3 separate regions of the Homo sapiens genome follow, and regions 2 and 3 are each linked to region 1. Evidence: fine-mapped expression QTL. A gene starts in region 1. Each other region holds a variant in brackets. All regions are shown on one strand. Distances are from middle to middle. Region 1 holds the start of ACSS1 (acyl-CoA synthetase short chain family member 1). Region 2 overlaps ACSS1 (acyl-CoA synthetase short chain family member 1). Region 3 has its middle 6.2 kb from the start of VSX1.

Evidence for each region. PIP is the estimated chance that this variant, and not a neighbour inherited with it, causes the effect.
Region 2: its variant is the best candidate, but not a certain one, in a credible set for the expression of ACSS1 in thyroid (GTEx, PIP 0.65).
Region 3: its variant is the best candidate, but not a certain one, in a credible set for the expression of ACSS1 in whole blood (TOPMed, PIP 0.73).

Annotation. Positions count from the first base shown.
Region 1 is chr20:25,054,103-25,064,398 of GRCh38, reverse strand. It overlaps ACSS1 (acyl-CoA synthetase short chain family member 1), which reads left to right and starts at 6,260. Exons shown (of 14, transcript NM_032501.4): 1 at 6,260-6,630. The coding sequence starts at 6,297. It overlaps LOC124904882 (a long non-coding RNA gene), which reads left to right. Exons shown (of 2, transcript XR_007067555.1): 2 at 1,029-1,437. RefSeq lists enhancers at 5,779-6,384, 7,035-7,164 and silencers at 6,005-6,534, 6,665-6,934.
Region 2 is chr20:25,027,793-25,038,088 of GRCh38, reverse strand. ACSS1 (acyl-CoA synthetase short chain family member 1) reads left to right here. Exons shown (of 14, transcript NM_032501.4): 3 at 7,131-7,330. Among named protein-coding and RNA genes, the nearest start is that of ACSS1, 25 kb to the left of the region's middle. RefSeq lists a silencer at 1,402-1,696. The variant T/C (reference allele first, on the strand shown) is at 6,547.
Region 3 is chr20:25,083,197-25,093,492 of GRCh38, reverse strand. No RefSeq gene overlaps it. Among named protein-coding and RNA genes, the nearest start is that of VSX1, 6.2 kb to the right of the region's middle. RefSeq lists enhancers at 8,860-9,465, 9,466-10,070. The variant G/A (reference allele first, on the strand shown) is at 4,361.

The sequences.
Region 1 (10,296 bases):
TCTAGTGCTATCTGTACACTCAGGAGCTCCATGAAGGAGGAAGCCATTTTTGATCCACACAGGAGGCAGGACAGTGGCCACAGCTCAAAGTTCTCAGAGCTTTGCCCTTGGAGTGACCCCAAGATGTCCCTGTGATCTCAGAGACTTACAGCTCTCAAATAGCACTAAAAGTGACGCCTGGCCTTGAGCGAGAGAAGGCAGTGCAGCTACCACAGTAGGGGAACCCCAGGAGAGGCAGCTTGGGAATGGGGAAGGGCATTGGCATGTGGGGGCAATTGCTGTGCCCCCCTTGGCCCTGCAGGCCTGGCAGTTAGGGACTGTTCTCCCAGGTGTAATGATTTTCATGGTGTCTTCCTTGAACACTGAGGGCTGCAAGGGGTCTTGTGGGGAAGTCTGTTCTATGGGTGGTTGATGGATGATGTCCCCAGCCGTGCATGCTCATGGATGGCTGGGGTGAGTGATTAAGAGTTACCAGGATTTGGTGCTGCTGGAATTGAGTTACCATGTCGCTCATGCTGACCAGGAGCTGCCCCACCACAGAGCCCAACTGTTCTGCCTCCTGCACCGCCCTCAGAGCATCAGAGAGCATAGCTGCCTGGCCGGGTATCCCGCAGCCCCAGGAAGGACGCCAGGCAGTTGCTGGATTGCACTCCCACTTCCCAGCTCTTCTTGCGCTTGTGGCCACCCTCTCTCGTCCTGTGCTTCGCTGTGTGTTGTTGGGTTGACCCCGCAGGGTCAGGGGCGCACTGCACTTCTGCAGGGCTTTGTGCACAGTGCCACAGTGCATGAGGCTATGGTGTGTTGCAGCCATATGGGATCCTCAAGCCCCCTGCTGAAGCAGATGTATGCGCAGACTCCACATACCTCATCCTCACCCGGAGTTCATGGGGACATCGAGAAATAGGAGCCAGAAGGGAAGGGAGCCCTGTCACCTTGTGAAGCTGCCACCATGGCAGCCCTAGAGATATAGCTGAGAAAGCTCCTCATTTTTTCTTACTCAATTTTTTTTCTCATCTCTTTATCTATAGGTAAGCTTGCTTAAAAGAACTTTGGGTGGCCTGGTAACTTCAGGACGCTTCGCCAATTACCAGAGGAAGTAAGGCTTGCCCAAAACCGAGCAAACCAGAACCAGTGGCCCCTGTCACCTTTAGATCATTAGCATATCATTATAATGCTAAAGTCCCCACTCATAGAAGAGAATCATAGAAGAGAATCGTTGCCACTTTCTGCACACGTGTCGTATGAAGAGCCTGTTCATGATCTGCACCTGCGTGTCTGAAGTTCCTCCCCACATAAGCTTACATAGCTCCTGCCCCACATCTAACCCTGTTACATTCCCCAGCTCCCCACCGCTCTGGAAGAAGCTGTCTTTAGAGCAAGTGCTCTCTCCTTCTCCATGCCTGGCCGGGAATAAAACCTGCTTTTCCTTTTCCCCAATCTGGTGATCTTTCTTTGTAGCTGATGCAGAGTAGAGAAAGAACTCAGTGAACTGGTGACGAAGCCAATTCCAGACTCCCAGCATCTGGGTCCTGTACTTGATCTGAGCTCTGCCATGCTCTTCTAAATTCTGTGTTTTGGTTTTACTGTGCATTTCAGCTATTTGAACAGTGTCTGTCTCTCCCCAATTTGAACTGTGACCTGCTTGCTTGCAGGGACCAAAACTGGACCGTCCTTGTCCAACTGAGAGCCCTCAGCTCTTGGTGGTGCACATGGGAGAAGCTCACAGGTTTCTTCTGAGTGTCATTGGAAAGAGGTGTGTGTGTGTGGGGTCACAGAGACAAATGAAGAGAACAGGAAGAGGGAGAGATGGAGGAGAGAAGAGGAAGGGAGGGTTTTACCAGCTCTTTGGAGACCACTGAGTGCACAGGGAGTGGTTGGGGATCCGTTATCAGCCAGGACTGTTTCTTGAGCATCTGAGCACTGCGACTCTGGAGTAATGGGCATGGCAGGAGCTATGAAGGCAAATGGCGAAGGCCGTGTTGGTGGGCTCTGTCCCTAAAGCTGTTAAATTAAGATGCTCTGGACGCTATGGCTCTGCTACCTACTAGCTGGTGGCCTCGGGTGAGCTTCTGTCCTCCTGCTTATTTTCACACATGTACAGCAAGGGCAAGAGCATTCACTGCTGCAGGTTGTAGGGTCAGTAGTCACAGCTGTGTTGGCATTTCTGGCCTAAACATTAGTACCGAGACAGAAGCGAATCCCGGATTCCCAAGAACCCTGCCCTCTAAGCACTTCGTGTGTCTGCAGCCCCTGCCTGACAGCATCCAGCGTTCCAAGTGAGCTCTCCTGAAGTTGAGGCCAGCGGCTTCTTAGGGAGAAGATGTGACCAGCACTGCCCAGATAGCCTGCTGCCCTGTCCAAACCTCTGAGGGTCCTTCGGGATGCAGGGCCAAGAGTGGGTGCTCCTTGTGCTTGTTCAATCTTGTGCTTGTTCTGCAAGAGTTGATGACTGGCTGCCAGGAGGGAGGCAGTGGGGACGACCTTGGCCTGGGCTGTGACACTCAGAAGGAAGGTCTCAAGGCCACCTCTAGGTAACTCGGGCAGCAAGAAGTGCAGTTCTGCACCACCTGGTTGGTTCTGACATGTTTGGTTCTGAAATGATCACTTCTTCTTATCCAACCAGAAGGAACGAGGTAGCATTTATTTTAAAACAGAGTTAGTTCTACCTACTTTTCTCATTGCAACTGTAGAAGACCTTAGAAACGAAGGTAGTAGGAAGAAGGAGCCATTGCCGTGCACTCTCCATGGGGTGGCTGTTGGTGCCAGGCCCAGTCACAAGCAGCATAGCTGGTCTCTTCTCTCACAGGGCTCCCTCCTGGTAGGAGGACTAGGAAGATAAACACAGAGCTAATAAGTAACAGCCATGGAGAAAAGTCAAGTCAGGGGTTGAGACTAGGGAATGAGGGCGGAGGTATAACTTTATGTAGGTGACAGGGAAGAAAGGGCTCTTGGATGAAGGGATGTTTGAAGACACCTGAAGGAGGTGAGGGGGAGTCTCTGTGGACAACTGGGTGGAGCATTCCAGGCAGAAGGGACATCGTGTGGCAGTCCTGAGGTGGGAGCCTGCTGGGTGATGGGAAGGACAGGAGGAGGCTGATGTGCTGGAGCCCCAATGAGTGAGAGCAGAGGAAGAGGGTACACTGGATCAGGGAGGGCAACGCTTCTCTAACGTGAATGTGCATGCAGCTCCCCTGGGGCTTAAGATGCAGATTCTGAGGCAGCAGGTCTGAGATGGAGCCTGGCATTCTGCATTTCTACAAAGTATCCAAGTGATGCTGCTGGCCCATGGACCACACGTTAAGTAGTGAGGCTATGGCCTGTGGGCCAGGGAATGATGTGGTCTTTGTTTTGAGGAGACTGGGGAGCCTTTGGATTGTTCCAAGCTCCAGAGCAAGTTCCTCTGACTCTTGTTTTAAAGGAATTGCACTGGCTGCTGGTTAGGCTGTCAGGGGCAAGGGTGAAAGCAATTTGAAGCCTACTGAATAATCCTAAAAGAGATAGGTATGGTTAGGATGGTAGCAGGAGGGGATGGTGATGGGGGAAGAGGTTAGTGCTGCAGGTGTTCTGAAGGTGAGTCACAGGATTTGCTGACAGGCTGCATGTGGAGTGTGAGGGGGAGGAATCTAGGATGACAAGGGTATGAGCCCAAACAACAGGAAAATGCCATTTCCATTCACTGACATGGAAGATCCGTGTTGTGGGGAAGAATCCCAGGACTTGGTATGTTTCAGATGTGAATGAGACATTTGAATACAGGACTGAGATGTGGAGGAAAGGTCCAGGCGGGAGGTGTCAATATGAAAGTGAGAGGCTAGAGAGCTGGCTGCTGTTTCCTAGGGGGCAGGGGAGAAAGGGGGATTTGAGGGCTGAGCTCCTGGGCACTTCAACACTTGGAAGGCAGAGAGAAGAAAGGCACCCAGTACAGGGCACTGAGAGGCAATAGTCAGTGAGTGAAAGAACCATGCATTTTTCAGCCTCAGTTGTTGTATCAGTTACCACTGCTGAGTTACAAACCATCCCAAAATTTAGTGGCTTAAATTTATTCCTTCTACAATTCTGTAAGTGGACTGGGAGGTTCCTTTGCATCCCAGGTGTTATCTGGGGTGACTCATGAGGCTGCCTTGGCTGGGACAGGAGCCTCCACATTGGCGTCATTCTTGTCTGGGAGTTGGTCCTGGCTGTGGATGGGACAGCTTCATCCTCGCCCTGGGTCCCTTCCTCTGGAAGGCCAGCCCCGCTTCCTCACAGCTCGCAGCTGGGTTCCATGGGAGGATAAGCTGGGGCTACGGGGTCTCTCAGGACCTCCACATGGAACTGTCACAGCATCCCTCCCACCAGGCTGTACTGGCCAAAGCAATCCAGCCAGCCAGGGTCCTCCTCTGGACAGAGCAGCACACCATCATGTGCAGGCGGTGCAGGCGTGGGAAGGAAGAGTTGGTGGCCGTCTTTGGGACCCCCTGCCACAGTTAGGAGCTTTCTCAGTTTACAATTTTACTACTCACTGACCTCTGCCTCTCAGTGCCCTGTACTGGGTGTCTTTAATATTCTATTCAAATGAACTTAGGCCAACGAGCTCCCCACTGGGGGCACTGGGTGTTAGTCTTGCTCTTCCCTTAGCCAGCTGCATGCTCTTTAGTAAGTCCTTTTATTTATTTGGGCTCAGTTTCCTCATTTTTTCCACCTGGAGTTTGACAGTTGGTGGGAATGGACAGCACTAGATAAGTTTCAAATTAAGTAGACTAGTCGGGTGCCGTGGCACACGCTTGTAGTTCCAGATACTCAGGAGGCCGAGTCAGGAGGATCGCTTGAGCTCAGGAGTTCCAGGCTGTAGTGAGCTGTGATGGGAACCATTGCACTCCAGCCTGGGCTACAGGCCCTATCTCTAAAAAAGTATCATAAATAAATAAAGGAGAAAATGCAGGTCAAGCGCTAGCACTGTGCAGGGCATGTGTTATGCTAGTAGATGTCACTGATTCTCCAGCTCTAGGTACACTCCTGTCTTCTCTGGCAGACAGCAGCATTCCCCAGCAGGGGCTGGTGGCTAGCCCACGCAGAGGCTCCTCCAATGGCAGGCTCCTCCCCTCTGCAAGCCCTACAGCTCAAGGGAAAGAAACTTTCCCATCACAGAGAACTCAATAAACCAGTTTTCCAAAATCTCTCTTCCCTGTGTTTACCCGTTTGTTATGAATTTACTTCTTGGGTGTCAGAATATTTAAGAACTCGGTGGAGACCAGTTTTATACGTTTCCTTCTGTCCTTCCTGGCTCCACAGCTGCAAAAACATCATCCCCACTACTGAGCTTACTATGGGGCCACGCAAGGGTAGACGCTTGACAGACATTGTCCAATGTATTCCTTACTGCAGCTGCCCACCCCCGCCGTCCCCGCCCCCCAGGGAGACATTACTTCCGTCTTCCCCAAAAGGAAAACGAGGCACCGAGAAGTTAAGGAACTTGCTCAAGGTCACAGAGTTTGAACTCAGGCTACAGATGCTGCAGCAACTGGAGAAAGTCCTCATCGCCCCATATCACCCACCACCGACCCCCAGCAGGACGTGACCCCCGCCAGGACGGAGGCCGGCAGCTGGGGGGCTGGAGCATGGGACCCAGAACACGGACTCAGGCTTGCGCAGCCTCCTGGCTTCTAGGCGGGAGCCTAGAAAGGCGCCAGCCCCTTTCGCGTGCTGCTGAGACTCCAGGGGTGGGGTTCACTCTCAGGGGCGCACAAAGGCATGAAAACCTTGGCTTCAGCCTCTGAGATGCGGAACTGACCGACCTATTGTCTTGGGACCCACCAGTGCGCTTGGGTGCACCAGCCCCCTTAACGTTGGTGCCGGCTCCCTCCCGGCTCCTCCCCATCCCAGAGGGTCCCCTCGCCCCAGGCCCTGAGCCTGCGTCCTGGGGTCCTGGGCCGCACGTGCCTCTGGCAGCTCGAAGAAGCTGTCGGGGCTTGCAGGAGAGCGTGCAAACTGAAACCAAAACAGGCCGACTCGAGGAACATCCGGGTGGGACCGCAGACTCACCGGAGCGCAGCGCCTGGGCCAGGGCCTGGGACCCTGCTCCGCCCCGCGCTCCCCTGCACCCCTTCCCCACGCTGCTCCCCTCTTCCTAAGCGGCCCCCCCTCTCCCGGGCAGCAGAAGAAGGGGTGGGACCCGGGCGGGCTCCGGGAGGGGGCCCTGGAGGAATGGATGGTGGCGGAAGGGCGGAGCAGGGGCGGGGCCCGCGGAGACTCCACGGGGCGCCCCGGGCGTGAGGCACCCACTCTGGGAGCACAGAGAGCTCAGGTAGCCTGCCTAGATGGCGGCGCGCACCCTGGGCCGCGGCGTCGGGAGGCTGCTGGGCAGCCTGCGAGGGCTCTCGGGGCAGCCCGCGCGGCCGCCGTGCGGGGTGAGCGCGCCGCGCAGGGCGGCCTCGGGACCCTCGGGCAGCGCTCCCGCAGTTGCAGCAGCAGCAGCACAGCCAGGCTCGTATCCCGCGCTGAGTGCACAGGCAGCCCGGGAGCCGGCCGCCTTCTGGGGGCCTCTGGCGCGGGACACTCTCGTGTGGGACACCCCCTACCACACCGTCTGGGACTGCGACTTCAGCACTGGCAAGATCGGCTGGTTCCTGGGAGGCCAGTTAAATGTCTCTGGTGAGTGGGCTTCGGGAGACCCAGGACGCCCCCAACTCTTGGGTCCCGAGGGGACTCGGAGCCTCTCGCCAGCGGCAGCCGTCCCCGGGCAGCGCGGATCGCAGCCCTGCAGGGGCCCCTCCTCCGGTATTCCGTCCGCCCCGCCCGCTCTAAGCAGTGGCTCCACGTCACCCCGTCCCTCATCCCATCGGGCCCCAGATCCACGTGCCCAGCTCGGGCCGGCGCCCGCGGGGACCCGGCGGCCGCTTGGGACGCCCCGCTGCTGGCCTTGCTCGGCGCGGCTCCTCGCTCGGCGGACTCCAGAGTTGCGTTACCGGGTGCATAGCGCCGCTGAGCAAGAGCCGGCGGGGAGCCGCGGGCTACACCCGAGCGCCCCGGAGTCGGGACTTTCCCGTTCCCATACCGGGGTGGAGGGAAAAACAAAGCGGTGGCGGTTGTCACTGCGGGCTGCGGTGCCCGGGGATCAGCCTGGGGACAAGCCCTGCCCACGTAAACAAACAGAGCTGTGGCGGGCGACCTGGGGAGGAGGAAACTCGGCGTGGCAGCTGGAACCAGTTATTTCTTCGCTGCGGGCCTGGGGCCTGGGGCCTGTGGACGGGAAGGAAGTAACGGCGGCCTCCCCGTTCTCGTTCTCGGCCTCAGAGAACTGCACCCCAGCGACCTGGGGCCTGCTTTGGACCCGCGGGGTCTGACGTCGGCCCCAAACAGTTGACTGGTGGTCAGTTGTTTGGAACTTGCTGAGCAGAGGCCCTGCTGCTCTGCTAAGATTTGGGGCTGGGGGTCGTACACAGCACCCTCGCCCCCACCTAAGGCGCTGACTGGGCACCGAGGGGGAGGCCCTGAACTGCAGGCAGGGCTGGCCACGCAGGGTGGGTGCCAAGTGCGAGGTGGGCTCCGGATGCAGGGTGGGCCTGGGTGTGGGGCCTGCGGGGAGGGGCTGGCAGACACGGTGTTGATCAGAGGGATGCAGACCAGAAGGGTGGTCATAACCAGCTTGCTGGATTTGGGAGTGTTTAAGAAAGGACCTGCGGGTCTTTATGGCAGGGTCACCAGGGCCCCATTTTCTCCAACTCCTCCCTCAGTTGTCCTTGTTGTTCTGCCCCCCCAGCCCTCAGTCTCCTCATTGTGAGGATGGGGGCAGTCATGCTCAGAGGTTAGGCTGAGTGCTGCAAGGTGTGCAGCAGACCCAGCGCTTACTGGTGACCCATAAGCAGTAGCGATTTTAGATAACTTCAGAAATAGTCATACAATTATAGATAGTGTCTTGCAGTTATTTTTCAAAGAAATTGGAAGGAACTTTGGACCTCCCCCACTCCCCGAAATTGTATATTACTTTGCTGGTTTAATTAAAATGAGTCACTTACTAGATAAGTGTTTTCTTTAACATTGAGTCAGCAGCAAGTGCCCTTGAACTAGTGGGAAAAAAACCAAACCCTTTGGTTTGCAGAGTTGGGGCAATGTGCCCTTGAAGGAGACTAGAGCAGCTTGCCCAAGGACAGAGGTGGAAAGTGACCTGCTCTGGACTTGTGAGGCCAAGGTCATGGGGAACATTCACAGTTGGCCTGTGCACACTTGCAGCCCCACTCAGATAAGACAGTGGGGCGGACCTCCTGGGGCCAACAGCAAGGACCTTCTGAACCTCGCTCGGTCAGGATCAGGGTGTGGTCAGCAAGCATTCTTCTGTCTCCTTTTCCTTCACTTATTTCTTCTGATAATATGGCCTTTATGGCTACGTTAGCCAGAAATTGAGCTTCAGAAAACTAACTTGAAAAACAGCTTTTCAGCAGCTTTCTCCCCTGGGATGTGCGTGCCCTCCTGTTCATGGGTCAGCAATATCTCTTTCCTTTGCCGGTGTCTGCAAACCATAGAGAAGACAGTATGAAAAAGGGCCAGGCCAGGCCATGACTCTTCTGGGAGCATCTAGAAAGTCGTGGGATGGATGAGAACACTTTGGTCTGATCTGTCAGCTGTGTGTGATAAAGTCAGATGGCTTGTTCCAAAGGAATATCACTCTTGAAGAAAGCTTCACCTCACCCCCTCAAGAATACCAGTGGTTCTCAACGCATGGTCTTCAGACCTGCAGCATCAGCATTACCTGAGAACTTTTGAGAAATACAAATTCTGGAGCCCATCCTGGACATCTGGAATCAGAAACCCTGGGATGGGACCTGACACCTGTGTTTATAACGAGCCCTTCAGATGCTCCAGAGGACACTCGGGCTTGAGAACCACTGGCCTGTACGCCTCAAACCAGGGCAGATGAAGGCACTTCTAAAACAGAATTGGGATTAGTGTCCTGGCCTTGGCCCTATTAAACAAACAGCAAGCAAATGATGGGCTGTGGATGGCGCAACACAGTTTCGTGGCTCCAGGTGTCTTTAGAATCATGACTCGGGTTGATTTCTTGCTTTCCCTGTACTGTACTTTGCATGTTTCCTCATCTGTAAAACAAGGGCCGTATGTAACTGAATTCTGTCCTAGTTACTATTGATGTACATCAAACCACCCCTAAGTTTAGTGACACAAGATAACAACAATTTTATATTCCTCGCAGAGTCTGTGAGTCAGGACTTTGGACAGGGCCCGATGGGGATGACTCATGTCAAAGGGCAAAATTAGGACAAATTTAGTTTAAAGACCTTACTTCACTTTATTCGTGATTATAGAATTGGGAAACACCCCATTCCATAAAACAGAAGGAATGTTTGATGAGCTGAACAGAGGAGGATGGTTTTATAGACAGAAGGGGCTGAAGGATGCAGACATGGAGAACAAAAAGTGGACTGGTTATTTCAAAGCTACTTTTGTTGTAAAGGTGAAAGTGGAAGGAGCTCCCTTATCATGCCAGCTTGTTTGGAGATTTAGCTATCTTTCACTCTCCTTGTTTCTTAGAAGGTCGGATAAACAACTTAGTTTCCATTTGGTGACACCGCACTTTAGCAAGAGTGACTCCATTTTTGTGTGATCTATTGGGCCTCATGCAGCTCAGTCCAGACCAGTGGCCTCCTATACATTTTATTTAACACTTGCTCCTGCTCCTCAGTGTCTGAGGTTGGAGTCATCTGCCTGTTTCTCACTCCCAAGTCTGGAGCCTTGTTTGGGACAACTTGCAGGCTGGCTTCAGCCAGAACTGTGGCCCAAAGCACCTCCTGGGGCTTGTCACAGCATGGTGGCTGGGCCCAGGCAATTTCCTGCAACCAGAGGTCCAAGAGACCAGCACAGATGTTATCAGGCATCTTCCGACCTGGGGAAGGGGACCTGAGTGTTTGCACCTGTTTTGTTATCCATGGGAGTATCTATCAGCACACCCATCCCAGGGCTGTTAGAATGAAATGAGGAAATGCTTGTAAGGCACTCAGCACTTTCTTAACACATTATACATCCCCAGTCACTGACTATTTGTTATTTATTAATGAAGCATGTGGGGAGGCTGTGACCTTGTGCTTGGCCTTCGGCAGTGCTGCTGAGAGAGCTGAGCTTCATCTGAACTGGACCACATGGGCTTGCATCTGATCAGCCTGGGATAGGTGGGGAATAGGCTTCGGAGAGCATGCAGGTGGCTGAGGTTGCTTTCAAAGCTCCACAGTATCCTGCCCATCCCACAACTCCAATAGCCAGTTGAGGTTATGGTGTCTGAGACTCACTGGGCAGGGTAGACAGAGTGTC
Region 2 (10,296 bases), 26 kb after region 1:
TGCCTGGGCCCGCCTTGGCCCAGGGGACCATTCATGTTCAAGTGCGGCTGCCACTTTATGTTTTCACGGCAGCTTCTCTTTGCTAAATGTCATGGTCATGACATCAAATAATGACGTGAGAAATTTCATACTTGGTTTATGAGCCCTGCTAGCTGACTTCCTGGTCTTCTGTTCTCTCAGCAGAGTGAGCAAATCTTACCACCATTGAATGACAGTCAGTGGCTACAGTAATGTCAGGGCCAGAGGAGGCTGCCAGGAGGGAAGGAGTCTGTTCCCCAGGCCTGGGTCCATGAGATGCGAGCTGGCCATCCATGCTTTGCGTGGCCTTCCACGCTCCTCCTGCGTGAGAAGGGGTCAGCCTCGCCAGGCTTCCCTTCCCTAAGGCTGATCCTTTCTTCTCTTACTACGAATATGTTCCTGACACAGCATGCTGAAGAAAATATCAAATTCTAGAGACAGCATAGGAATGTCCTTTCAAGTTTTGGATCTAGACCATGGAGTTGGCCTTCCCCAGCCCCCATCAGCACCGGTGCTTGGAGAGAAGTGACTGAGCCTGAGGAAATGCTTTGTGTCTGTCAGAGGCCTTCACATATCAAGACAATTACCTGGGTTTACTTCCCTTATTGGCAGAAGAAAATGAAACGTTTCTGTAGGCTGGTTTCTCAGAGGGGGTCCTTCCCATTTGCTTCTCAGAGCAGCAGCACATCTTCATGCCAGCGTGATGCAAGGTGACAGCAGCCTAGCCCCTCAGGGGAAGGAGGACACAGGGTGTCTGCAGGGTGGGTGTCGCTCTTGGTGGAGGTCCTTCCCACTTCATGCTCACCTGCTGCGCCCATTTGCTCAACAAATATTTATTGAGTACCTTATATGAGCTAGGTGGATGCCAGGAGGAAGGCAATAAGCAAAACCCAGATCTCTACCCAAGCAGACCTTGTACTTGATGGACAACAAAGAAGTCTGTTAGCTAATGTTTATTTCATGAATACTGACTGCCAGAATAATTGTAAGCAATAAACAATCATGCATTCTCAATTTCTTTCTTTCCCTCTTTCTTTCTTTCCTTCCTTCCTTCCTTCCTTCCTTTCTTTCTTCTTTCTTTCTTTTTCTTTCTTTCTTCTTCTTCTTTTTTTTTTTTTGACAGAGTCTAGCTCTGTCACCCAGGCTGCAGTGCAGTGATGGGATCTCAGTTCACTGCAATCTCCACCTCCTGGGTTCAAGCGATTCTCCTGCCTTAGCCTCCCAAGTAGCTGGGATTCAGACATGCAGCACCACGCCTGGCTAATTTCTGTATTTTTAGTAGACACAGGGTTTTGCTATGGTTGGCCAGGCTGGTCTTAAACTCCTGACCTCAAGTGATCTGCCTGCCTCAGCCTCCCAAAATGCTGGGATTACAGCTGTGAGCCACTATGCCCAGCCTTAATTTGTTTATTTCTTAAACACGAGAGCACACACAGGACTTACTTATCCTGGGCCTTCATCAGGAAATGTCTAGGAGGAAAAGACACTTTCAATATTAACCGTGACAAAACTAGCTCTGATTGAAAGACAGATGAAAAAATAAATACCAGTGTATTTCTTCCTCTCTTTTCTCTGAACTCTGTTTCCAGCTGTTTCCTGTTTTGGACTAATTTTAAATTCTGAGGCGGGGGGTGGGGGGCAGGGGTGCAGTTGTACCGTCTGAGTTCAGGCAGTTATCGTGTTGGTCACAATTACTTGCAGTCAGATTGTATCTTTAGCATTGGATAAAAGTTATTCCCAATTGATGTTAAGAGTTGGTAATAAGTCTTCTTCCTTCCCCAAGGCCAGTCAGCGTTTTCCTAGTGTTAAGCACCAGGAACACAAGGCCACATTTGTATTTTTGTGCACATCATTTGCATACGTCTGCACCAAAAGCTTGACCCGGCAGAGTACACTGCAGACAAACCTAAATATCCTGCTCAGTACCTGAACAACAAGTGTTATATTTCTTCTTGGACTTAAAAGTAAAACTCTAACTCATTTTAGTGACTCAGAAAGCTGCATGTCCCCGTGCTTTGGAAACCCACTAGGGTGCTACATAAGAGGATCCTGCAGGTAGTGAGGAAGCCACTGTTTCCTGCAACTGTAGCCCAAGGCACCAGTCACTGAGTGGCTGCATTATCTTTCTGATACAGAAACAGTAACATTTCGGTTTGTGGAAGTCTGAGAAATTATGAATATCCAAAAACATGCTTTCAAATGGTTCCTGAGTACTTGGAATGGCAGGATCACTTACTTGAACAACATTTATTTTTCAATGATTTGAAGACCTAGGTTTGCTGACCATATTTTCCAATAATATATGTCTGGAGGATATTACTAATGAAAAATGAGAGTTTAAACTTAAAAATCCAGGCTTCAAAAATTGGCTGGGTGTGGTGGTTCATGCCTGTAATTCCAGCACTTTGGGAGGCCAAGGCCAGTGGATCACTTGAGGTCAGGAGTTCAGGACCAGCCTGGCCAACATGGTGAAACCTGTCTCTACTAAAATACAAAAATTAGCTGGGTGTGGTGGTGCACGCCTGTAGTCCCAGCTACTCAGGAGGCTGAGGCAGGAGAATCCCTTGAACCTGGGAGGTGGAGGTTGCAGTGAGCGGAGATGGCACCCCTGCACTCCAGTCTGGGTGACAGAGTGAGACTCTATCTCAAAAAAAAAAAAAGTCACCTGGAAAGATGGGGAGAAATTGAGATAGAATTAGATTGGGATAAATGGAAAGCCTGCTTTAAAAAAACACAAAACATTTCCATGGCCATAATAGGAGCAAGCCCTAGTTAAAGGGCATCTGTTACATGTATTAGGAGTTGGGAGGGTGCAGGTTAGTGACCTCATGTTGAATTTGAGCCACCTGTCAGGTATTTTAAAAATGCATATGGTCGGCCGGGTGCGGTGGCTCACACCTGTAATCCCAGCACTTCGGGAGGCCAAGGCAGGTGGATCATGAGGTCAGGAGATTGAGATCATCCTGGTGAACACTGTGAAACCCCGTCTCTACTAAAAATACAAAAAAATTAGCCAGGCGTGGTGGCGGGCACCTGTAGTCCCAGCTACTCCGGCTGGGCTGAGGCAGGAGAATGGCATGAACCCAGGGGGCGGAGCTTGCAGTGGGTGGAGATCGCGCCACTGCACTCCAGCCTCGGCAACAGAGCGAGACTCCATCTCAAAAAAAACAAAAAACAAAAAACAAAAAATCCATATGGTCGGCCTGGCGTGGTGATAGCTCATGCCTGTAATCCCAGCACTTTGGGAGGCCGAGGTGGGTGGATCTCCTGAGGTCGGGAGTTCAAGACCAGCCTGACCAACATGGAGAAACCCCGTCTCTACTAAAAATACAAAATTAGCTGGGCATGGTGGTGCATGCCTGTAATCCCAACTACTCGGGAGGCTGAGGTGGGAGAATTGTTTGAACCTGGGAGGTGGAGGTTGCAGTGAGCTGAGATCGTGCCATTGCACTCCAGCCTGGGCAACAAGAGCGAAACTCCACCTCAAAAAAAAAAAGGTTAAATATAGAATTGAGGTCAAGGGTCTGGGTACCCACATTCAGCTCTGGGCAGGCACCATGAGAATGTGGGGGTCCATTTGGAAGTCTGGGGGTGTCTACTGAGATCGAGTGCCGTCATGGAGGGCTCGACCAGAGAACCTGGGGAGGAAAAGCTTCCAAGAGGATGAGGGGCAAGGAGTATTCAGGAATTTGAAGGGCTGTCATTGAGAAATTAGATTTATTCTGGGAAGCTTTAAAGGTCTGAGGTAGGACTAAGGGGTGGAGTTTGAAGAGCTGCAAATCTTGGTCCAATTTTTGGTAGACTGTTTCCCTATTAAAGTGACAGAGATGTGGCCCCATGAGGTGAGCTCTGGCAGTGTGATGATTAAGTAGAGGCTGGACTGCTGTAGGCCAGAATGTGGCTGCCAGATTTCAGAACCTCAAGGAGGCTGCACCGCCTGACGTCCAAGGATCCTTTCCACTTCAAGGTTTATGACCTTGGCAGAGAAAATAGGAAGGGAGAGAGCTCTGAGATTTACCGGATCAAATCCTTCATCAGGAGCCCCTCCTCTGGACTCAGCAGCAAGAGTGTGAGACTCACCAGACCCTGCTTCAGCTCTTGGGCCCATGTTGAGGCCCCTCAGTCTTCCAGGGAAACCTGGTCTCTAGACCCTCCCTGGAGGCTGTCGTTTAGCTGTCCAGCTTCAATGACTGGGTGACTTCTGCCCCTATAGGGAAAATCCACTCTTCTTTCTGCCCCAGTCCTCCTCCCAACAGCCAATCTATCCAGAAAGCTCTCCCTGCTGCCCTTCCCTGCCACCCCCAGTGGCTGTACCACCAAGTTGAGCTGCTCAGTGCCCTGCACACCTTCACATGTGCCGTCATTTCCTCATCGGAGCTGTGCTCCTGGAGGACACTCTCCCTGTCAATTCCTTTCTCAAATGCAAACACCCCACTCACTCCCAAGGTGCCTAGAATGGGATTTTTAACATCTCAGGAATTCACTGAAGTGAGTTAGCTGGTTTTTGTCATTTTAGAAAACGATTTCAAACAAAGATTTCTGAGAATTTCCATCTGATGGGAAAGACGATAGCTACTGAATGTTTGGCAGAGTTCCAAGTCAGTCTTGCTTTTTATTAATACTTGTGACAGCTGTACAAGGTGGAGGGTGCTTGCTGTTTCTCAGATGGTCACATGGCAGCTCAGAAAGATAAGCTCCCATGTCTAGGCAGCTACTACAGAAAGCTACCCCAGGCCTTTCTGTAGGGACAGTCCAGTGTCCTTTCTTGGCTTCAGATTGCTGCCCTCCGTCTGCAGAACAGGGACTAAATTTCATCGCCATTTAACTGGTGAGCATAATTCAAGCCTTCATCTCTGGTAGCAGCGAGGCTTAAGCTCTCAGAGCTATGAAAACGGAATCTGGCTGAAGATGTTGAGTGACTCTGGACCACGGCTCCCTCTTCAGCCGGTCACAGGCCACCCCAGCCTCCTCCCCGGAGTAGCAGGAGTGTTTCTGAGCCCTAGATTCTGTAGAGCTTGGTGCTGGGGGTTTTCCGGGGGAGTGTTCCGTCTTTTATCATAAACCTTGGCAAGGGGTGCGTGGGTGGGGCGCCACTGAAAGGCGCCTTTGTCCTCCTTCTGAAAGCCTGAAGGGAAAACGATGAAATCCCACAGAAGAGGCCGCTGGAGCCAGGCTGGGCAGGCGTGCTGGCTGCGGGGAGAACTGCGGGCTGGCCTTGCGATCTGGTTCTCATGTGGTCCCCTCTGCAGATGGCCTTGGGAAGAAACAAAGGCCTCCTTGAGGCCCCTGCCTGTGATGCGGACAGCTCATTTTCATTCTGCTGTGGTTTCCCGGGTGGCCTCGTTGAGCTTCACTGTTCTCGGGAGCCCTTTCCTTGACTACCCTTTGAACAGAGGAGAGCTATGCAAACACGCTGCGAGCGGCCTTGAGAGCCCGAGGAGGGTCTGCTTTCTGGGCCCCTGCAGAGGGCAGGGGTCGCGGGCTGGTGGTCTGCCCCGCCCAGAGAGAAAGGGCCTTGGCTTCCCCTCATTCTTCGTTCTGTGTTAGCTCTTTTTATTGCAAATAATTAATTAAAGTCAGTACAGCAAGAGTGGGAAAGTGGTTAATGCAATTGCCAGGTCCAGATTCAGAGGGATGAGGCGCCGAAAGGAAAGACAACCTTGGGATCGCTTCCACTTCCTCCACTTCGCACCGCATGGCCGGCAAGTTGGCGGCTCTCGCCTGCTCCCAGTTTTCCCGGAGTTGAGTATGGTTGACTCTGACTGGACCAGGTTGGGTCACGTGTCGGCCCTGAGCCAATCAGCTTGCCCAGAGAGATGATGCGCCCTGAGTGGTGGGTGAACCTGGTGATAGGCCCCAGAGTGGCCAGAGAGGAAGGGCATGCGCACACCATAGACATAGGCAACGTGGTGGACGACATGGGGGCTGGGCGGGGGTGCTGCTCACCCACCTTGTGCCCAGTGCTTTCCCTTCCCCTTGTCCATGGTCCCCTAGCTTGGGGAGAAAGCAGGGTGCTTGCTCTACCCGCCAGTGCTGTCTCGGGGCTGCAGGGAGTTGTGGCTGCCCTGCTTGCGGTCTTCACTCCCAACTCACTGTGGCTTTGCAGAGCTGGAGTCCGCCCTATCTGGGCTTGGGGGTCTGCTCCCTGAGAGCATTATTTGGTGCCCCTCGACTGTGTTGATTCAGAAATCTGGGACCTGTTGTTTCTCGACTAAATGTCTTATGAGATCAGTCTTTCTTTTGGAGGCAAACATTTTCGGAAGTTTTGGAACCATGATGATCTATGCCTCAGACACTTGTGGTCCCTGAGAAGCTGCTGCTGGAAAAAGGGGTCCCCATCCGGATCCCAGGAGAGGGTTCTTGGATCATGCCGGGAAGGAATCCAAGGCGAGTGGCAGAGCGCAGTGAAAAGAGATAGTTTATTGAAAGCTTCTCAGTTACATAGTAGGGCATCCTCAGCAAGAGGAGGAATGCCTCTGTTTTGTTTCTTTCTTATATAGGGGTCTTATCTATGTAAAAGCTAAGCTA[T/C]GTCTCCCTGCGGGTAGGCTGACGAAGTGACATTTATTACTTTGTTGATTGAAAGAAAGCTATCCTTGGCATTTTAGTGCATAAGTACATCAAAGCATGCCTATAATCATCTTAAAAGCATATATTATGCAATATTGGGGCATCTGGACATTCTGTTGTTGCAAGAGTTTGTCTTTGCAGGTATTAAGCTACTTCGTCAGCTGTAAACATCTTATGACTGTGGGTCATGACTGGCAAGGAATGTGCCTTGCTAGTTTTAAGATGGAATTGATTCTAAAATGGTGTCACCATGGCTCCCCTACGCTCCTGTTCCCCTAAAAAAACCCTGCCGTAAGCGGACTTAAGGATAGCCTTGTCACCCTAGCAATGTGGCAGTGAATCTCTGCCAATAGCAATCTACAAATGTTAAAAACTTTTCTTTTTCTGGAAAAGTACTTTCCATGCATTAAGTATTCAAGTGCCTGTTTTCCTGGCACTGGGCTGGATGTATATGACATAAAATTTGCAGTATTGCTCCACCCCCAAACTGCTCTGCATTTTGGCCCTCCTCCATCTCTGATGGCTTTCTCTTCCCTGTGCTGCAGGGAACTACTGGAGACCACGTGCCGCCTGGCCAACACGCTGAAGAGGCATGGAGTCCACCGTGGGGACCGTGTTGCCATCTACATGCCCGTGTCCCCATTGGCTGTGGCAGCAATGCTGGCCTGTGCCAGGATCGGAGCTGTCCACACAGTCATCTTTGCTGGCTTCAGTGCAGAGTCCTTGGCTGGGAGGATCAATGATGGTGAGGAGGTGGGCATGGGGAGGGAGGAACCCTGGAGTTCCCTGATCCTTGTTCCTGGGGGCCTGGCCATCAGTGTAGAGACCATCAGAGTGCAGACATTAATGTCACACAGACAAATGACAGATCGTACTAGGGACAGGCACATGGCCGAATGAGAATTTGTTCTGTGGGCTGAGATCTGAGTGCATTGGATTTAGCCAGGTGAAAAAGGGACAGTTCCAGTTGGAGGGAACAGCAGAGGCACAGGCCAAGTGGAGGAGGAGCACAGCATGAGGGCCTAGTGCAGGTGGGTGTAGTGCGGCAGGAGGGAAGTGTGGAGGTGGGATAAGGCTGGAGATGCACAGGGAAGGTTCCACAGGTCAACAACTGGAAGGCTTCTATCCTGAGGAGTGAAGGTGTGGACCATATTTGGGGATCTGGAGTCAGGTGAAGGGGGTCTTTCTGTCTGCATGTGGGTCAGTGTGTTTTGGACATTGTGCAGAACAATAACTTCCTTGTTTTGCTGTTGTCAAAGGACTGAGTGTCTGGATGGTGGCCCTATGTCCATGCAGTCTGATCTCTGCACCCTGCTGTCTCCTAGAGGGAGTCCCTGAGCTGGCTTCGCAAGGCAGGTGCCAGGTTCTAGGTGCCATTGAGAATTCTTGTGCCTCATAGAAAATAGAACTAATGGGTAGAGTTCTCAGACTCCTGTTGACCTCCCTCTGTATAAAAGGCTGGGAAGCCCTTCCGCTTCCTTTCAGAGTTTCTTCCCCCACGTTCAAGGGTGATGCTGCTACCTCTTTCTCTTTTTCTTCCTCTCTCTAGAACTCTGTAATACCAACTGTGTACCAGGCACTGTTCTAAGCACTCTACAAAGGTTATGTCCTTTAATTTACCTTACTCTTCATAAGTATTTTATGCAATAATACTATTATTATTCCCCTCCCCTAAAATTACTGTTGTAACCATCTTAAAGTGTACAATTCAGTCACATTAAGTACATTCACAGTGTTATGCAGTCATCATCAGTATCTAGTACCTGAAGTTTTTCATCACTCAAAATGTACACTTTACACCCATTAAGCAGACATTCTCCATTCATCCATGTTGTGGCATGTATCGGTATTTCATATTTTTAATAGGTGAATAATATGCATTCATTGATGGCCATTTGGGTTGTTTCCATTTTTTGGCTATTGTGAATAGAGCTGTTATGAATGTTCATGTATAGGAACACCTGTTTTTAATTTTGGGGGTATATACCTATGAGTGGGCTTGCTGACTCATGTGGTAATTCCATGTTTAACTTATCAAAGAACTGTAAAACTGTTTTGCTAAGGAGATGCACCATTTTACATTTCCACTAATAGTGTATGCAGGCTCCAGTTTCTCTGCATCTTGTTGTTTTTCACTTTAAAAAATTACAGCCGTCATAGTAAGAATGAAGTTGTATCTCATTGTGGTTTTGATTTGCATTTCCCTAATGACTAATAATATTGAACATCTTTTATGTACTTGTTGGCCATTTGTATGTTTTCACTGGACAAAGTCTACTTAAGCTGTTTGCCCATATTTTAATTGCTTGCTTGTCTTTTTGTTGTTGAGTATGTAAGTTACTTATATATTCTGAATATTAGACCTCTATCAGATATATGATTTGCAAATATTCTCCCATTCTGTGGGTGGTCTTTTCACTTTCTCAGTAGTAAACTTTGGTGTATAAAAGTTTTAAATTTTAATGGAGTCTAATTTATCTATTTTTTATTTTGTTGCTTGTGTCTTTGCTGTATTATTTGAGAAAACATTGCCAAATCTAATGCTGTGAAGATTTTTTCCTATGTTTTCTTTTTTTTTTCTTTTTGAGATGGATTCTCGCTCTGTTGCCAGGCTGGAGTGCAGGGGCATGATCTCAGCTCACTGCAACCTCCGCCTCCTGGGTTCAAGTGATTCTCCTACCTCAGCCTCCCGAGTAGCTGGGATTACAGGCACGTGCCACTGCATCGAGCTAATTTTTGTAGTTTTAGTAGAAACAGGATTTCACCATGTTGACCAGGATGGTCTCGATCTCTTGACCTCGTGATCCGCCCGCCTCGGCCTCCCTGTTCGTATGTTTTCTTCAAAGAATTTAAGTTTTACCTTTTTACATTTAGATCTTTAATTTTGAGTTGATTTTTGTACAGGGTGTGAGGTAAGGGTCCAGTTTCATTCTTTGTCCTATGGCTATCCAGTGGTCCCAGCGCCATTTGCTAAAGAGGCTGTTCTTTTCCCTGTTAAATGGACTTGGTACTCTTGTTGAAAATAATTTGACCATATATGTGAGGGATTATTTCTGGGCTCTCTATCCTATTCCATTTATCCATATGATTACCTATGTATCTATTATTATCTCAGTATCAAACTGTTTTGACACTGTAGCTTTGTAAGTTTTAAAACCAGGAAGCGTGAGTCTCCCAACTTTGTTCTTCTTTTTTCAAGATTGTTTTGGCTCTTCTTGCTTTCTTGTATTTTCATAGGAATTTTAGGATTAGCTTTTCCATTTCTGCAAAAAAAGATGTTGGGATTTTGATTGCATTCAATCTGTAGAAAAATTGGAAGGTATTGCCATATTGACAATATTAATCCACAAACATGGGATATCTTTCCATTTATTTAAGTATTTTAAAATTTCTTTCAACAATATTTTGTGGTATTCAGTGTACAAGTCTTGCATATCCTAGGCTAAATTTATTCCTAAGTATCTTATTCTTTTATGAATTTTTATAAATGGAATTGTTTTCCTAATTTCCTTTACAGATTGTTCATTGCTAATATGTAGAGATACAGCAATTTTTGCATAGTGATCTTGTATATTGCAAATTTAATGATTTATTAGCTCTAATAAATAGTTTTTTTGTGGATTCATTAGGATTTATACATAGTAGATCATATCATCTCTGAATATAGTTTTACTTCTTCTTTTCCAATTTGGATGTCTTTTATTTCTTTTT
Region 3 (10,296 bases), 29 kb before region 1:
TTCTTTTTTTCTAATTTCCTAAGTTGGAAGATTGGATGATTGATTTAAGAGCTTCCTTCTTTTCTTTTCTTTTTTTTTTTTTTGGGAGACAGAGTCTTACTCTGTCACCCAGGCTGGAGTGCAATGGTACCATCTTGGCTCACTGCAACCTCTACCTCCTAGGTTCAAGCTATTCTCCTGCCTCAGCCTCCCAAGTAGCTGGGACTACAGGCGTGCACCACCATGCCCAGCTGATTTTTATATTTTTAGTAGAGATGGGGTTTCCCCATGTTGGCCAGACTGGTCTCGAACTCCTGACCTCGGGTGATCTACCCGCCTTGGCCCTTAAAGTGCTGGGATTACAGGCATGAGCCACTGCGCCCGGCCCTTCCTTCTTTTCTAGCAAATGAATTTAATGTTACATATTTTCCTCTAAGCACTGTTTTCACTGCATTCCACACATTTGGTAAGTTGTATTTTTATTTTCATTAAGTTAAAAATACTTTTTAATTTTTCTTGAGACTTCTTCTTTAATTCTTATGTAAAATAGAAGTACATTGCTTAATCTCCATATATTTGGGGATTTTTTTTTCAGCTTCTGGTAGATTTCTGTTTTTGACTTCTAGTTTAATTCCACTGTGCTCTGAGAACATATTTTGGATAATTTCTATTCGTTTAAATTTGTTAAGGTATGTGTTATGGCCTCGAATATGGCCTATTTGATGAATGTTCCATGTGATCTTGAGAAAAATATGTATTCTGCTGTTGTTGGATGAAGTACTCTATAGACGTCAGTTAGATCCAGTGATAAATGGTGCTGTTCCTTACTATACCCTTACTGATTTTATGCCCACTAGATCTATCAATTACTGATAAAGGAGCGTTGAAGTCTCCAACTATTAATGCAGTAAAGAATTTTATATAGCTTATATTTTCCTTGCTGTTCTATCAGTTTTCGCTTCCTGTGTTTTGATACTCTGTTGTTAGGTGCATGCATCTGAAGTATTATGTAAACCAAAAATAAAATTCGAAGGCCCCCCACTTCCTTGCAACCATCTGAATGGGCTCCCTCCTTGGCCAGGGCACTCTAAAATTTACCTCCTACTTGAAATGAAAGACAAGAACCCTCAGGACCCGAAGATGTATGCTCAGCAGTATGGGAAGTATGTACTCAAAGTTCCTCTAAGTGTGTGAGAGGATGAAGAGCATAAACCACTGCAGAATCCTTTCCCCTTTGGCAGACAAAAGACTTGACTATAACGGTAGTTTAGGAATAAAATGTCTCAGCATTTGCCATTTCCTGTCTCTACAGGGAGCTGAACTTAGGATAGTGGCCTTTGTTGTGTCCAGGAAGGGCTGATTTAATGCATGTGGTGGCCAGTGTCTGCGATGGATGGGTCTTCTTCATTGTTGTACCCTCTCCTTTCTGATTTCTCCTTCTCTTCCTCCACTCTTTCATGAGCATTTCTCTGACCGATCTGAGCATGTCCGGTTATTAGTGTGTTAGGGGGAGTGAGCTAGAAGAAGAGTCAGTAATCAGACAAGCATGCTGCAACCCTCCACTCAGGGTGATGGACTGGAGGTACTGGGTCCACACAGATGGCTGCTGCAGCCAACCCTGCCAGAGTCCCCAAGGTGCCCTAGCCATGCTGCCGCTTCTGCTAGCCTTCATCAGTGAAAACTCAGCACAAACAAAGCAGTTTCAGGGTGGCAGCTCAGTGACATTCATTTCCACACTTTTGTTGAAACCGGTGAGTGAAACAGGTTTGTAAATTTCTCAGCCTCTTCTTCTAGTATTTTGTAAAATATTCAGCTTCTTCCTGCAGGAGGGCAGTCCCAGGGCTGGGCTGTGAGAGTCTGATGTTGGGGCGCCTTTCTTTCCTCTTGAGCACTCAGGTTACAGTGGATGACATGCTCCCAGCCAACCTTCCTTGGACCAGGCCTTGAGCATGGGGACAGGACTGGGGAGAGGACTCCAGATCTAATGTGGAGTGAATGGGGAAGAGCTAAGTTTCTCCCAGGAGACCCCGTCAGGCAACAGGCATATGGTTCAGACTCCTCCATCTTATGGCCTGTTCCCCCGCTGCAGACCTTCACTAAGCACTGGCTCTGCACCAGGAGTGTGCGGGGCCCTGGCATGCAGGGGCCCCAGGCCAGCCCCAGCCCTGCTCTGGAGCTTATGGTCAGTCTAGGCTTGGGTTCTGCACAGCAGACTCTGAGACAGGGATTTGAGTGAAGTAAGTAATGTGGGAGGAACCCAGGAAGTTCTAGTAGGGGAGGGGCAGGGACACAGAGAAGCTGTGACAGCAAGTGGCATTTCCCAAGGCTCAATCACACCAGGACCTCGGGTGACTATGCAAGGTGATTTCTCTTCGGGATTTTCCTACCACAGGATCATTGCACCCCTTGGCCAGGTATCATCCATCAACCCCTGTCATCTGTCAAGAGTGGCTGCTGGAGGCATCACCCTCTGCCCCCCAGGACTTCAGTCCTAGCTGGTGCACTCCTGGCTTTGGGGCATCCTCCGCTCGAGTGGCAGGTGCTGCAGGCAGGAAGCTGTGGTGTGTGTGTGAACTGTCTACAGAGGCTGCAGGCGACCCGGAGGGCAGCCTGCCAGCACTGTCAGCTACAGCATCCGGCAAGGCAGATGGGTAAAGCAGTAAACCAGCAGGTGAGTGAACGGTTGCAATTGTGGCGGATGCCTTGGAGGGAGCTGACTGGGAGTTGAGCACAGAGGGAGGAGCAAAGACCTCCTTCAAATAGGGTCATGGCCGGTGCCTGCCTCCTTGGAGTAAGTAGGTCCCCAGCAAGCAGAGGCAGGAACCCGCAGTCACGCCACCCTGGCAGAGTTGTTCTGACCTTTGCCTAGAGCCTCGGTGCTACCTGTGAGCTGGGATAGTGATCACATTCACTTCTAATATGAGCTGGTTAAAAGCACATTATCATTGGCCAGGTTTCTCAATTGCCAAGAGATGACCTAGTGCTTGTTTAATACCAGAAATGAAGCTCAGCAGCAGCTCTTGGGCTGTCCTTCAGCGGCCCCTCACATGCCCAGGTGTGACCTTCTGGTTAGGGTGGCCTATGTCACCTCCCTCTCACCTTCTTGATGTCCACACAGTGCACCTGCTTTTGTCTGCCATGGGGGAGAGGAGGAGAGGCAGATCCTTCTGTGCCCTCTGCTCATGACCTTTTCTGCAGTGGGGTCCGAGGGTGGGCTTAGCTCAGGGACTGGATGGTGTGTCCTCTCCTAAGCTTAACTTGGCTCTGGGTTCCTTTGTCTTACAGATGGAACTTAACCAGAAGAAGCTAAGGAAGAGAAGAGAGGAGAGGAGAGAGACAGTGAAGAGGCTGGAAAAGGAGGAAGAGAAGTATGTTCTTTGGAATCAAAGTGTTACCTGGATTCCTACCCAGGATTTTCCTATTGTCTCAGGACCTAAAGGGAAAAGACCGGCCATGGGGCATGTGAGCCTCTGGGAAATCTGCCTCAAGCCCATAATGCCATCCGTCTACAGCAGTTGGAACAGTGTAAGAGTCAGACCTCGCCAGATCCCAAGCGCTGCAACATGAAGAACAAAACCAAGGTTAAGCCACAGACCAGGCCCCGTGGAGATTTCGCTGCTTCTAGCCTGACCGTCAGGATTTGGGTCCTGACCGCTCCCCTGGCTGTTGGGCTGGTCCCAGCTCTGGGCCTCCGTTTTCTCACCCACAGAATGGGGACGATACAGGACCTCCCTCATCAGAGCTGTCACAAGTGGTAAGTGAATGGGTTCGTGAGAAGCTCTGCAGTGCCTGGCGCAGACCAAGGGCCCCACCGATGGTGGCTGTGAGTTTTCCCACTAATGTATTTTTTGATATGTAACATTTTAAAATAAAATTTTCTCTTTTCTTTTTTCCTTCTCCTTTTAGAACCTCAATTTCCTGATTCCCTAAGCTCATGTCTGGTGCTGACTATTATCTTAGTGCTGAACTCAAGCTTTCCTCATAGCTCCTCAGAGCATTTGAGAATAACTGGGTGTTTCTGCACCCACAACATATTTGTAAAACCAGTCAGGATATATGGTTCATGAAGCATTAATAGAAGATGTGGTTCTCAAACTTGAGTGGGGCTCAGGGTCCTCTGGGGGGCTTGTGAACACACAGATCATGGGTCTCCCCAAGGTCTCTGATGTTGGAGGTCTGGATGGGGTCCAAGAGTTTGTTTTTCTGGCCAATGCCCAGGTGGCCAGAACCACTTTTGGGAACCACACTTTGAGAACCACTGGCACATAGTAAGGAGGCCTCTTCCAGAGGCCACCAGGGAAGTCACTGTCCTGGAAGGTAAAGAACATTTGTCCAGGGGATGTGTTAATGAAAAGACTCAGTTCTGGGCTCCTGGAGCCAG[G/A]TAGGAGATGAGAACAGACACAAAAGAACTTAAGAATAAGAAAATAAGACCAAAGGAGCATCAAGTGCTTCAAGAGTGCAGCAGTGATTTTGTTCCAGCTGGGGCAGGAAAACCTGGGGAGGCTCTGCGGTGAGGAACCATTTGGGCTGGGCGTTGATGGGTGGCTGAGCACTGCTTGGCGCCTGGCCCTGCAAGTGCGATGTGGTGGGTCCTGTGTCCCACCTTGAATCTGTGTCCTGTCCTTGAATCTGGTGGCTTGTGGCTGCTTAAACCAGTCAGCAGGGCCAGTGCACACTAATGCCTTGGGTACAATGCCCAGGGCCTATGCTTCTAATGCCATTGAATATATTTTAAAATCAGAAGGAAAAATGAGTACAATAATAAAGAATATACAATAATGAATCTAGACTGGATTATATTCACCTTTATGCCAACATAGGCACAAAATACAACTTTAAATATTTTTATGGAAGAAGGGGCCCATGAAAGCAGAAGTGCCACTCCCCCAAAACTCATGCTATGGCCTCGCTGACTGAACGTGATGGAAGTAATGCTCTGACTTCTGTGGAAGGGCCAGCAAAGGCTGTGCAGCATCTGCCTGGTTCTTGTGGGATGCTCCCAACTCCCCGAGAGCCCACAAGGCCAATCAGCCTGGGCCATGTGAGCGGGCTGCCTTGAGCACCCAGCACAGCCCCGTTGAGCCCTCAGATGACTGCCACCCCAGACAGCAACCACAGGAGGGCTCTAAGTGATAATGGCCTGCTGAGCTCTCCCCAGATTTTTGAGCCACAAAACTGTGACCAAAATGAAATGGTTTGTAAGTAGCTGAGTTTTGGGATAATGTGTTACCTTAAAATAGTAACCGGAACATCCAGCCAAGAAAGGGAACTCGGGGGCTGGTGCTCTCATGGGGCTGATGAGAGGATGGACAACCCTGATCTCCGCACCCTGGGTCAGTTTTATAGGATATACCACATTGCTGACTCTCAAGAGCCTGCTTGTTCACTGATGAGCTGGGCATGTGATACCATCACTTCTTCAGTCACTAGCAGGAAGGAGTTAGGAGTTAGCATTGCCCATGTGGCAAGGGGAAGCCATTGAGGAAACTGCAGTAGGGAGCAATAGGCTGTGCTCAGGCAAGGATCACTGTGGCTGTGGAATAAAGATGGCAGTGGTGGGGTATGGGGAGGGGCATGAAGGAGGTAGAAGGAGATTCCAGAGGGCAGAGCCCTGGCCATACACCCTAGACAGGGTTATTGGATGCAAACCACAGAAATGTCACCCAGCCAATTTACACAGAAAATAGCCTTACTGAATGGCATTGTTTCTCCCCCATACACCCCCTCCCCAGACTGATGGACAGCTGGAGAGGAAGGGCAGGGATGTGCAGCCCAGGCACCTGGGAACAAGGCCAAGTCACCACAGGGCACAGCAGTGAGTGTGCCATAGCATGCAGGGTAGCCACGGGACACCCACCATTGCTGCTGCAGAAAACCCTCCCTCTCCTTTTGTCCCTGGGTCAAGGTCACAGAACTGCCAAGGAGTGGGACAAGGAGGACTTTACCTGCTGTTTTTTTTCTTTCTTTCTTTCTTTTTTTTTTTAGAAGCCACCTCTTTAGGGTACTCTGAAACTCATTTGTATACTGAGTAGCCCTAGACTAAAAAATAAATTCCACTCCAGCAAGTGAGCAATTGGTCTGAGCCATGTTGTGGCAATGGGTGGTGTCATGGTCTGTTCTGTGCTGCGGTAACAGAATACCACAGACTGCGTAATTCATAAACAATACAGGTTTATTTGGCTCATGGTTTGGAGACTGGGAAGAAGTTCAAGGTCAAGGGACCACATCAGGTGAGGGCCTTCTTGCTGCCACATCACATGGTGGAAGGTGTCACATGGTGAGAGAGGAAGAGCAGAAGAGGGGGCGGGAAGGGGCCAAACTCATGTGCCCACTCCCATGGTCACTAACCCACTCTCACGATAACTAACCCATTCCCACAATAACTAACCCACTCCTGCAACAATGGTATTGATCCACTCCTCAGGGCAGAGCCCTCCTGACCTAATCACTCCCTAAAGCCTCCACCTCTCAACACTGTTGCATTGGCGATTAAGGCACAACACACGAACTTCAGGGCACACAGTCAAATCAGAGCAGGCAAAGGAAAGAAGATGCCACTTTGAGAGGGTTTGAAGAGAGATGCAGGGCAGCAAGACACCCACAGTCAGAGTTAGGCCGTGAGCTGACACTGCTTGTATTCAAATCCTGTCTTTGCCACTGGATAGTGAGTGACCTTGGGCAATTTATGCAATTATTTAATCACTTGAAATTTTCACTTCCTCATCTGAAGCATGTGGACAATAATATTATCTACCCATAGAGCTGTGGTCAGGATGAAATGTGGCCATTGTGATAAGGTGTTTATAATAATAGCTGCCCCCCAGTAAGAAGCCAAGAGAGGTTGGCCATCTTCATCACTTTCAGTCGTGGGAGGAGAGCCTGTGGGGAGAGTGAGGGCCTGAGGATGACACTCGATTCTGTGTGGGCCCCGGGGTGGAGGAAGAGGAGACCTGGGGAGGTGCAGGCTGCAGGGGAGGCTGCTGTGTTCAGCTCTGGGTGTGTTGCATTTCAGTGCCCCGGGAGACTGGTTCAGACATGCAGGAGTACATTGAGACAACAGCCTGGGCTTCAAGAGTGGGGTCCAGATTGGAGAAGATTCCAGAGATCTGGGCAGGGAGATGGTGATTGCCCCGTGGGGTTCCACCTGAGAAGAAAGAAGGGCTCTGTAGACTTTGAGCTGAGCATTCCAGGAACACCCAGGTAAAAGCGAGATGGAGACAGGAAGTGTCTGAGCTCAGGTGGCTAGAAGCAGAGCCAGGGACAGGGTCTGGGCGCCTGAGAGATATTGAGACAAGGTCTCAGGAATGAGGGGCCAAGATGGGGTGGGAACAAGCTGAGCAAGGAGCTGACTTGGTCTGATCCATGAAGGGAGAGGGTCTTGTAGCAGAAACGCCTCTGCAGAGCTGTCCTTTGAAACGAGAGGAGAGGCCTCCTATCATCCCTCTGTCAGTTGATGACACAGTGTGTGTGTTTGTCAGGGGGTGGGGGGCTCTGGATTAAGGGGCTTTTGTCAGCCAAGGGCAATTCTTCCTATTCGAGGGCCCCACACTCACAACAGCTGGAAGAAGGTGCGACAGTTCTGGAAAGGGGGTCTGGGTAGGCACAACAGCATTTAGATACGAGGCAATATGGAATGCAATCATCAGCAAGTAACTAAAGCTCCTCCTGCTTGGATCTCTGGGAGGCGGAGTAGAAGGCACCTCTAAGAGTCACTCTGTGCAGGGGTGTGTTTGTGTGTGTGTAGCGGGGGGTGCTTACATTGCAATTCCCGTCAGTGTTTGGTGTCGCATTTCTCCACGTGTTAATTATTGGCACCTTTAGCTAGTGGGCAGAGTGAGCTCTGAAGGTCGAGAAAAGTCCCCAGGTAAAGATGTGGCGGGCACTGGAGGCTGGGCAGGCGTGCAGTTGGAGGGGTCAGGCTGGAGGTGGGTGGGGCCAAACAGCCTCTGCCACAACTTTTTTTTTTTTTTTTTTTTTTGGAGACGGAGTTTCACTCTTGTTGCCCAGGCTGGAGTGCAATGGCTCTATCTCAGCTCACCGCAACCTCCGCCTTCTAGGTTCAAACGATTCTTCTGTCTCAGCCTCCCTAGTAGCTGGGGTTACAGGCATGCATCACCATGCCCGGCTAATTTTGTATTTTTAGTAGAGACAGGGTTTCTCCATTTTGGTCAGGCTGGTCTTGAACTCCTGACCTTGTGATCCGCCCGCCTCGCCCTCCCAAAGTGCTGAGATTACAGGCGTGAGCCACTGTGCCCGGACTTTTAACTGAAGACACAAAAGCATCCGAGATGGAGCAGCCAGAGGTGGGAGGAAAATCAGAAGAACGGAGCCGTGGGGGGTCATTTCTGCAGACTCACAGGGCGATCCGTTTCACCTTCTCGGGGCATCCCACCCCATTGTGTCTGAGCACTTTATCGCGCCAGCCTGGCCAGCCGCGGCTCTGAGAAGCCCAAGAGGGGTGCCTGCTGAGCCACTCACAGCAGGTCCAACCTCAGCCTGGCGCTGCCAAGGCACATTCGCGGTCGGCGACAGAGGGGCTGGAAATCTTCCTTAGAAAATAATGAGCTGAGGAACCTTTATTCATTAGTTAAATCCCGGGTAATCCTGGCTGATGAAGACAGATTCGGAACCCTCAACGGATTTAGGGACCCAAAACGACTCCTGGGGGCCGCCCGGGGCGGGAACGTTCGCGGGAGCTGCGCCTCTGGCAATAGATTTGCAGGTGGTATCCGGTAGGGGGAAGCTGGAAGGAGCCCATTCTTTTGGCCGCCAGGACGCGGAGGCTTCCCCTAAACGCGGCCCGTAGGTTTGGCAACTGCGAGGGCACCCCGGGGACACGAGGATTGTGGGTGGATCGTGGGCTAGCTTTTTATCTCTTGCAGACGTCTCCTAAACGGCAAGAAGCGCTTCCCTGGTCTTGGCTGACGCTGAGTGAAGCGCCCGTATAACTTGACGCTGGGCTCTGGGTGGATCCCCACCACATAGGGCGCGCAAGTGGATACCAGAGCCCCGGCAACAGCGGGGACACAGATGAGCGCAGCGTCGGGTGGGGGGCGTTTCTCACTGTAGGAGGCTATGAAAATGTCCTCCCGCGCTGGGCTCCTGCCACCGCCACGCTGCGAAACACAAGGTGACCCAGGACACAACTCGCCCACCGCTGGGGTCCTGCAGGCCCCTCCCTGGCATTGGGGTCCCGGGATGCATTAGGAACGCCCCAGTCCAGGAATTGCAAGACCCCTTAGAAGTTCGTTCCTTCTGCATCTCTGAGTCCCCTTAGAGCTCCAATACGGGCTCCTTGATTGAGTCTCCTGCTCTGTGTCGCCCTCGCCACGTCTCTGTGTCCGATGTGACTGGGTTAATAAGTCCCAGTTGCTCTCACCTGCAAAATGAGTTTAAGACGATCCTTCCCGAGGCGCCGCGGTCACTATAGAGAGTGTCTGAGGCTGGGCTCCTACCGCCTGGCCTTTTGGTGTCTTTGGATCACTGGCTATCTACTCGGGGTCTGTCACTCCCGTGATCGCCTACCTTCCAGGGAGACCTAGGGGAGGGAGACCCCAAGACCTGTCCCAGGTGAGGCCACTTGGTCGGCACCCGGGGCTGCAGGCACGGCGCCCGCGTCCGCCCTCGCCCCTTAGGCTTTCCATTCGCGGGCGACCCCGGTCGGGCCACCTTAGAATCGACTACCCTGCCTGCCTGACTGGTCTCGGGCTACAAACTGTGTGGAAGCGTAGGTATCTCACTTAACTGCTACCCCAAATTCGGATTTACAAACGACTACGCAGTCCCGAATGCCCAACGCCTTCCCTAAACCCAGAGATAAATCTGGGGGAAAATTCCTCGCGGAGCGGAAAACAACGCCAGCGTCTAAAGCGTTCTGCCCCGAGCTGGAGTGGTTCAAAAGACAATGATCTCAAAAGAAAGTGATTGTTTTGGTAATCCCGGGAACAGCTTGCAAGGGGGAGATTTGGGTCTTCCTTTAGTAACGGAAAGTCAATGCGCAGCCTCCTGTAATTATCCTTATCGGAAGCCCCTTGTTTAATCTGCATGTTTAGCGGAGGCCCCACTCGAACGCGCAGCGAGTGGGAGACCCACTTTGCAGGGCCCAGGCTCGGGCTCCGGTCCCTGCGTGCGCGCAGGCAGCCGCGCCGGGTTCCCGCGGAGCTCAGGCGTTTGCTCCTCCCTCGCTGCGGGACCTCGGACTGTAGGACCCTCAGGGAGTGGGACTGAGGAGATCTGCTTCCGGGGTTCTGGGATTGGGAAGCGGGGGACGCAGGGCTCCGAGCGATGAGGGCTGGTTGGGTTCAAAGCGCGAACCAG